Regions from separate parts of the Homo sapiens genome. Here region 2 is linked to region 1. The links come from fine-mapping of genetic effects on gene expression. A gene starts in region 1. The other region holds a variant in brackets. All regions are shown on one strand. Distances are from middle to middle. Region 1 holds the start of EFHC2 (EF-hand domain containing 2). Region 2 overlaps EFHC2 (EF-hand domain containing 2).

Evidence for each region. PIP is the estimated chance that this variant, and not a neighbour inherited with it, causes the effect. A credible set is the group of variants that fine-mapping cannot tell apart.
Region 2: its variant is the best candidate, but not a certain one, in a credible set for the expression of EFHC2 in blood mononuclear cells (TOPMed, PIP 0.82).

What each region holds. Positions count from the first base shown.
Region 1 is chrX:44,341,269-44,345,268 of GRCh38, reverse strand. EFHC2 (EF-hand domain containing 2) reads left to right here and starts at 1,597. Exons shown (of 15, transcript NM_025184.4): 1 at 1,597-1,722. The coding sequence starts at 1,681.
Region 2 is chrX:44,308,032-44,312,560 of GRCh38, reverse strand. All of the region lies in intron 2 of EFHC2 (EF-hand domain containing 2), which reads left to right. It also overlaps the pseudogene RRM2P3. Among named protein-coding and RNA genes, the nearest start is that of EFHC2, 33 kb to the left of the region's middle. The variant A/G (reference allele first, on the strand shown) is at 2,504.

The sequences.
Region 1 (4,000 bases):
GGCCTCAATAACAGAATCAGGCAAAAAAAGCAAGTAGCAGAAATTTAGAGTGTAAAATTTATAAACACAGAAGCAATAATGGATATTGTTGATGAATAAAAAAGGAGATACAGTCCCTGCCCTGGAGGTATTTGGGGGCATTTAAAGAAATGTCAAGTAAACAGGTAATTACAATGTAGTAGGATGAAAGCCACGATCAGAATAGACACCAAATACAGATGGAGGCGGCAGGAAGAAGGTGAAAGAATATATTGAAGAAATGGCAATACCTTCTATGCCCCACTCCCACGCTGGCCTCAAGTCCTGAAAGACAAGAAGGGGTTACTTATGTGAAAGATAGGAAGGAAGGGTGTTTCTAGACGATAGTGTTATTTGCAAAAGCCCCAAGAGGAGAAACCGCAGAGCCTGATTTAGAAACTGCCAGTGGTTTCTCAGAGCTGGAGTAGATGGAGGAGGGGGCAAAGAAAGGGATGGAGGGCATTGGTAGGTGCCCTCTGACAAAAGCTCCTCAGACCAGGCTATAAGGAGTTTCACCACCTTCTGAAGGCGGCGGGAAGGCTAGATTATTGAAGCAGAAGAGTAACAGCTGCACCATGAATTATAAAAACGACGGCTCTGGAGGCAAGATCAGTTAGTTTTTTGTGTGTGTTTGTTTTTCTTTTTAAAGAAGAAAACCAGGCAAGAAACAATGGGATCGCAGCTGAAATAGACGAGGTGGTGACTGAGAGAGAGCATCGAGTCCAACCTTTAGGGCTTCAGGGAGGGATTAGACGTAGGTGTCGGGAGAGGAGGTTCCTGGCCCGGCTATCTTGGGGTGAACGATGGAGTGACAGGGGTTGCGATTTGTGACACCTGACTCCGCCCCGGCCACCCCTGATTGGGCCTTACAAACGTTTAGTTCAAATACAAAAATGGGCCGGACACGGTGGCTCATACCTGTAATCCCAGCACTTTGGGAGGCAGAGGCGGGAGGGCTGCTTGAGCCCAGGAGTTCGAGATCGGCCTGGGCAACATAGTGAGACCTTGTCTTAAAACAACAAACAAACAAACAAACAACAAATATAAAAATATCCAGAAGAAAAACTGAAGGCGGTGGTTACCATTACAACGCGTTTTCGTCAGGGTATATGTGGCTTTAGATTCATCTTGAACGTTTTAATTACAAAATAAAAGCTGATGTCTATGCAACATAGGAAAATATCGACTTGTGTAACATCTCAGTGAGCACACGGGCGTCATATTACTTTCTGTACTTTGCTGTGTGTTTGAACCACATAGCAAAAAACTGTTGGCGACAAGAATTGGAAAAGCAAGAAAGTACAAGAAAGGCTTTGAGTTCTATAAGGGGGTTAAACCAGAAAGCGGCGGGGGCAGGGAACAGTCAATCTTTGTGTGTGCACACTGCGTGTGCAGAGAGAAGACTCCTCAGGAGACCAGGACCTGGCTGAGTGTGTGCGGGGATGAAGCGGGTGGAGGGGAACTGGGGCTGGGGAGGAGGTACGCGCCGCGGAGGTGTCCCCCGCCCCCCACGATCCTTCTCGCCAACCCCCCGCCCCTCCTCCCTCCGTGACGCCGCTTCCCGTCTCCAGGCAACGTGGGGGCCAAACAACACGGCCGGGAGGCGCCGCTGCCTGCCGGGCCCTCTCTTCTGGGACCCTGGATTTTCGGACACTGAGCGCCATGGCCCTGCCTCTGCTGCCGGGCAACAGCTTCAACCGCAACGTGAGTAGGAAGGGCGTCCGAGGTCACAGCTCCCGGCTGGAGTCTGGGGTCCAGGCAGGGTCGTGGCGTGGCCACCTCCGCAGACTCTCCTGGAGGCCCCATGCTGCTGCCCTGGGTTGGTGGCAACTTGGACCAAACTTTATAGGCTGCTTCTCCCATCTCTCCAGCTGCATCTGAATGTTTTTCCTAATTTAGAAATATATAGAGAGAGTCCTTATAGGTGGCAGGACCCTCAAAGGTAACAAATAATAGTGACGATAACCATTGGGGGTTTAATGTGTGCCAGGCGCTGTGCTTTAATCACCTTATGCAGCATCCAGTGTCCCAACAGCCCTTTGAATTAGGTAGTTTTTATTCCCAGTTACTATTGAGGAAACTGAGGCACAGAACCACACAGTCTCAGTGGTGAAGCTGGGTTTCTTTCAAGCAACCTTGTCTCCACAGCTCAGGAGCCTAATCATTATCCCCAGTATCCTGTGTGAAAAAAGATACCGTTTCAATTATCAAATTGAAGAAATCTGGCACTTATCAAGAGGGGTAGGTGGCAGATAAGAGTTCTATCAGCCTGTAAAGTTTACTCCCAAACTTTATAGAGACAGGCACCCAAACTTGGAGGGATTTTTTTTTTCTCTATTTATAATTGGGAGGGGTTCATTTCTTTTTTTTTTTTTGAGACGGAGTCTCGCTCTGTCGCCCAGGCTGGAGTGCAGTGACCCGATCTCGGCTCACTGCAACCTCCACCTCCCAGGTTCAAGCGATTCTCCTGCCTCAGCCTCCCGAGTAGCTGGGATTACAGGCGCCCGCCACCACACCGGCTAATTTTTGTATTTTTAGTAAAGATGGGGTTTCACCATGTTGGCCAGGCTGGCCTCGGACTCCTGACCTCAAGTGATCTGCCCGCCTCGGTCTCCCAAAGTGCTGGGATTACAGGCTGAGCCACTGCGCCTGTCCTGGAGGGGTTCATTTCAAAAGAAGATGAACGTACAGAACAAAGCAACACAACACAAAAAACCCTGAGCATGAAAGAACTTTTGCCAATAAATAGCACCTCATTTAAACGACAGCAGGAAAATGATTCAGGCTTTTGTTTATACTGGTTACTACCCTTCACTTGGGTCAGCCATCTGTGTCTGCAGGAGAAGCTAATTCCCAATTAGATGGGAGGGAATTAGATGGAGCCACTCAAGGCAATTGTGTAAACCTTTGATAACTTTAGAAAGCAGGCAGCAGATTGAAGTATTTGGCTTTATGGTTTCCAAACACTGTCTGTATCTAAGTTGTTGGCCCTGAAGTACAAGTTTTTTCTTTGTAGCTTCACGCCATTGAATTCTGACCCCTACACGTCTGGTCAGTCCAACTTTGAACACTGATTTGTGCATTTCTTGGTTGATGGGCAGAGGCTGGCCTTCCAGCATAGCATTGCCCTTTGGTAAGTTTAAGCCAGTCACGCAAACAAGAAAGGCCCCTGAGAGACGGGACATGAAAACAGATTCCAGAAGTAAAGAAGCATGCTGTGTAAAAGTAATTTTAATAAAAAATGAAAGTAAAGCCTACAGCTTTTTGCCCAGCAACACTCTGATTACCAGTGCCTGCCTCCTGCAGAAGTATCATAGCTCTCACGTGCAGTGATTAAGGATGGGAAGGAAAAACAGTGGATGGATGAAATATTAATAAATCTGCAAGGTTCTGCGTATATTTTTGCTTTTTAAAAAACTTTAAGATCATGAAGTACAACACATATACAGAAAGATGCACAATGGATGATCACAAAATGAATATCAAGAAATTAAATATGGGGGCTGGGCGCAGTGGCTCACGCCTGTAATCCCAGCACTTTGGGAAGCAGAGATGGGAGGATCCCTTGAGCCCAGGAGTTCGAGACCAGCCTGGGCAATATAGTAAGACCTCATCTCTACAAAAGATTGAAAAAATTAGCCAAGCGTGGTGGCACATGCCTGTAGTCCCAGCTACTCAGGAGGCTGAGGTGGGAGAATCATTTGAGCCTGGGAGGTCGAGGCTGCAGTGAGCCATGATTGCATTACTGCACTCCAGCCTGGGCAACAGAGCCAGACCCTGTCTCAAAAAAATAAATAAAATAAAATATGACCTGTTCTCCAAAAATACCACCCTTGACTGGGGTTGCCAGATTTAGCGAATAAAAATACATATCTCAAATACTGCATGGAACCTGTTTATGGGAAAGGATTATTTATTGTTTACCAAATTTAACTGAGAATCTTGTATTTTATGTGACAACTCTACCTATGAACCTTTCTGT
Region 2 (4,529 bases), 33 kb after region 1:
ACATGACACTGGGAGGAATGCAGTCTTAGCATTTTACAGATGCTAAATAATTTAGTTTTGAGAAAGTAGGAGTCTTCAGTGTAAATGTTAAGGCTAGTTCTTTTTCTTTTTGCCTTTTCTACTTATTATTGCCTTTATTTTTAGTGTTTTATTTTTAGTGTTTCTCCCTTTGTCTTTATTTGTTTAAATTGACAAACATAATTGTATATATTTATGGTGTACAACATGATGTTTTGAAATATGTATACACTATGGAATGGCTAAATTGAGCTAATTAACATATGCGTTACCTCATGTGCTTCTCTTTTTTTGTGATGAAAACACTATTGTCTTACAATTTTCAAATATACAATACATTGTTATTAGCTATAGTCATTGTGTTATACAATAGATCTCTTAAACGTATTCCTCCTAAGTGAAATTTTGCTTCTTTTGACTAAGGTTAGTTCTTCTGAAAAGATAAATTCAAGAACAAAAGTATCCTAAACAAAGAAAAATCATTCTTGCTCTGCTCTTTTTTATCAGGCACATTGGTTGCAGAATGCCAAATGTTTATCTTTCTTGGCTAATGCTTATTAACCTTTCTCTCATCTCCTTCACTGGACAGGATAATCTGTCCTATAGAAACTAAGAGTCTCGTCAGATTGTCACTTTTGCTTTTGAGTTGCCATTGACTAAATAATTGTGTTTGAGTCTGAATGTGGCTTTAAATAGGAATAGAAAAATGCCTTCTCTTCTTTTCTCCATACTAATTAGTAATAAACCGTAGTAATGATTCCCCATCCCTAAGGGCTAAAATGTGATGTGGCAAGAAGAATAGTGAAAGGAAGTGATGCCATTATTAGACAAGAGTTGGAATTTTTTAATGTATATGTCTATACACATACACACACATATACATATGGACATATTGGCAGTTAGAAAAAGGAATGTATTTGAATATTTTTTAAAAAGGCTAAGATCAGAGGAAAGAAAAGGCGACCAGCTATATGGATATGCTGTGTTTATCAGATAGCCCTGTATCACAGCCCAATGTTCTGTTCTCCAGAAAGAACTAGTTATTAGATTATTTTAGATCCTGTAATTGAAAGATAGTTCAGGACTAGATAAAGAATTGAAACCATAGCATGCTAAGTTTACCAGGTGGTTTTTAGCAGCTTTTAACATGGATTGGTTGGCAGTACTTTGATTCTAATTAAAATGTCCTCAAATTGACACATCCCCATGTCATCTGTGATAGGGTAGATCAATTAGAGTGCACATTTTTTTTTGAAGCCTAGTTCTGACACTTATAGTGATCTAACAGACCACAGGGAGGCTTCCTTCCTGGGAAACCATTTCTCCTTTCAACATGGGCCAATATTCTTTTCTTGGATTATTTTCAGTACCTGGCTCAGTGCTGGACCCAAAGCTCAAAAACAATTCTGGGCTGACTGACTTGGGTGGATTATGCATAGTTTTCTGTTACTCTCAATCTTATAGGATGTTTACTTTGCATGGGCCAAAGAAAAGATTCTATTTTTACCTCATGTAAAATAGAGGGTATCGACAATATTTTAAACTAATCCACTACTGAATAAGTATCGTAGGCCACAATGTATTAATATTAAACTATTCTCTTGCATTTCAAGTCGAAAAGTCATTTCATGTTTTTCTCAATATTTAATATGTGCCTTTCAAGCCTATTTTGCAGGCCTTTAATTACTTATGTAGAATATTTCATGAATCTGGAATAATTTTAGCTTCAGACTACTTGAGTAAACGAAGAGCTTGCTCATTTCAGGGCTAACTAAATGCAACATAATTCTTTCAGTTATTTTGTTGGTCAACTTCTATTAAATATTCATTGAGCTTTAAATGAGACACTAAGACTGAAATATTTACGTGCTCTGATGAGACTGTGAACTACAGACTAGATCCTGGTTAATACCCCAAGCAAATTATAAAGCGCTTTCTACATTAGCGGTTCAACAAAAACAAGTCAACACTTGTTAATCATTTGTCTTAAAAATGAGACATTTTCAGTGCACCCCATCCCAGCCGCCCGGTCCCGGCCCCTCACTCTCCTTTGCCGCGCTACCACCATGCTCTCCGTCCGCGTCCCGCTGCTGCACATTACGGACCCGCAGCAGCTGCAGCTCTCGCCGCTGAAGGGGCTCAGCCTGGTCGACAAGGTGAACAGGCCGCCGGCCCTGAGCGGGACCCGGGTTCTGGCCAGCAAGACTGCATGGAGGATCTTCCAGGAGCCCGCGAGCCGAAAACTAAAGCAGCTGCCCCCGGCGTGGAGGATGAGCCGCTGCTGAGAGGAAACCCTTGCCGCTTTGTCATCTTCCCCATCGAGTACCATGATATCTGGCAGATGTATGAGAAGGCGGAGGCTTCCTTCTGGACCACCGAGGAGGTGGACCTGTCCAAGGACATTCGGCACTGGGAATCCCTGAAGCCCGAGGAGAGATATTTTATATCCCATGTTCTGGTTTTCTTTGCAGCAAGTGATGGCATA[A/G]TAAATGAAAATTTGGTGGAGCGATTTAGCCAAATAGTTCAGATTACAGAAGCCCGCTGTTTCTATGGCTTCCAAATTGCCATGGAAAACATACATTCTGAAATGTATAGTCTCCTTATTGACACTTACATCAAAGATCCCAAAGAAAGGGAATTTCTCTTCAATGCCATTGAACGATGCCTTGTGTCAAGAAGAAGGCAGATTGGGCCTTGCGCTGGATTGGGGACAAAGAGGCTACCTATGGTGAACGTGTTGTAGCCTTTGCTGCAGTAGAAGGCATCTTCTTTTCTGGTTCTTTTGCATCGATATTCTGGCTCAAGAAACGAGGACCGATGCCTGGCCTCACGTTTTCCAATGAACTTATTAGCAGAGAAGAGGGTTTACACTGTGATTTTGCTTGCTTGATGTTCAAACACCTGGTACACAAACCATCGGAGGAGAAAGTGAGAGAAATAATTATCAATGCTGTTCAGATAGAACAAGAATTCCTCACCGAGGCCTTGCCTGTGAAGCTCATTGGGATGAATTGCACTCTAATGAAGCAATACATTGAGTTTGTGGCAGACAGACTTATGCTGGAACTGGGTTTTAGCAAGGTTTTCGGAGTAGAGAGCCCATTTGACTTTACGGAGAATATTTCACTGAAAGACTAACTTCTTTGAGAGGAGAGTAGGCGAGTATCAGAGGATGGGAGTGGTGTCAAGTCCAAAAGAGAATTCTTTTACCTTAAATGCTGACTTCTAAATGAACTGAAGATGTGCCCTTATTTTGCTGATTTTTTTCCATCTCATAAAAAAAATCAGCTGAAGTATTATCAACTAGCCACACCATGAATTGTCCATAATGTTCATTAACAGCATCTTTAAAACTGTGTAGCTACCTCACAACCAGTCCTGTTTATTTATAATGCTGGTAGTATCACCTTTTGCCAGCAGGCCTGGCTGGCTGTGACTTACTATAGCAGTGACAATGGCAGTCTTGGCTTTAAAGTGAGGGTTGACCCTCTAGTGAGCTTGGCACAGCAGGATTAAACAGTCATTTAACCAGCACAGGGAGTTGAAAGTTGAAAGATGCAGCCTCACTGCTTCAGCGCAGATTTCAATGTTTACTTAAATATAAAACTGGCACTTTACAAACAAATAAACATTGTTTGTACTCACAAGGCGATAATAGCTTGATTTATTTGGTTTCTACACCAAATACAAAGCATTCTCCTGACCACTAATGGGAGCCAATTCACAATTCACTAAGTGACTAAAGTAAGTTAAACTTGTGTAGACTAAGCATGTAATTTCTAAGTTTTATTTTAGTGAATTAAAATACTCGTTAACCAACTTTAAAGTCAGTCCTGTGTTTAGATAGATACTAGTCTGTTGGTGCCAGATAGAAGACAGGTTGTGTTTTTATCCTGCGGCTTGGGTAGTGTCCTGGGATTCTCTGCCCCCTCTGAGTAGAGTGTTGTGGGATAAAGGAATCTCTCAGGGCAAGGAGCTTCTTAAGTTAAATCACTAGAAATTTAGGCGTGATCTGGGCCTTCATATGTGTGAGAAGCCGTTCCATTTTATTTCTCACTATATTTTCCCCAATTTCTAGTTGATAAGAAAAAACTATTGAAGAGTTTTTTTTTCTTTTTTTTTTCTTTTAATACAAGAATATGTCTCTTTTTATTGAGGTCTTTTTTATGTGCTATGATTAAATTAAATGAGATAATGCTTTAAAAGCACTTATATGTGGGAGCTAAGGTAGTATTGTAAAACTTCAAGTCATCCTTAAACAAAATGACCAACCTAAGATCTTGCTCCTGTTAAGTGGTGAAATCAACTAGAGGTGGTTCCTACAAGTTGTTGTTTATTCTAGTTTTGTTTGTGTGTAAGTACGTTGTGTGAGTTAATTCATTTATATTTACTATGTCTTTTAAATCAGAAATTTTTTATTATGTATGTCCTTTTAGATTTTACCTGTAGTTCATACTTTAAAATAATCACCCAGTGTCTTATTCTAGCATTGTCTAAATCTGAGTATTATC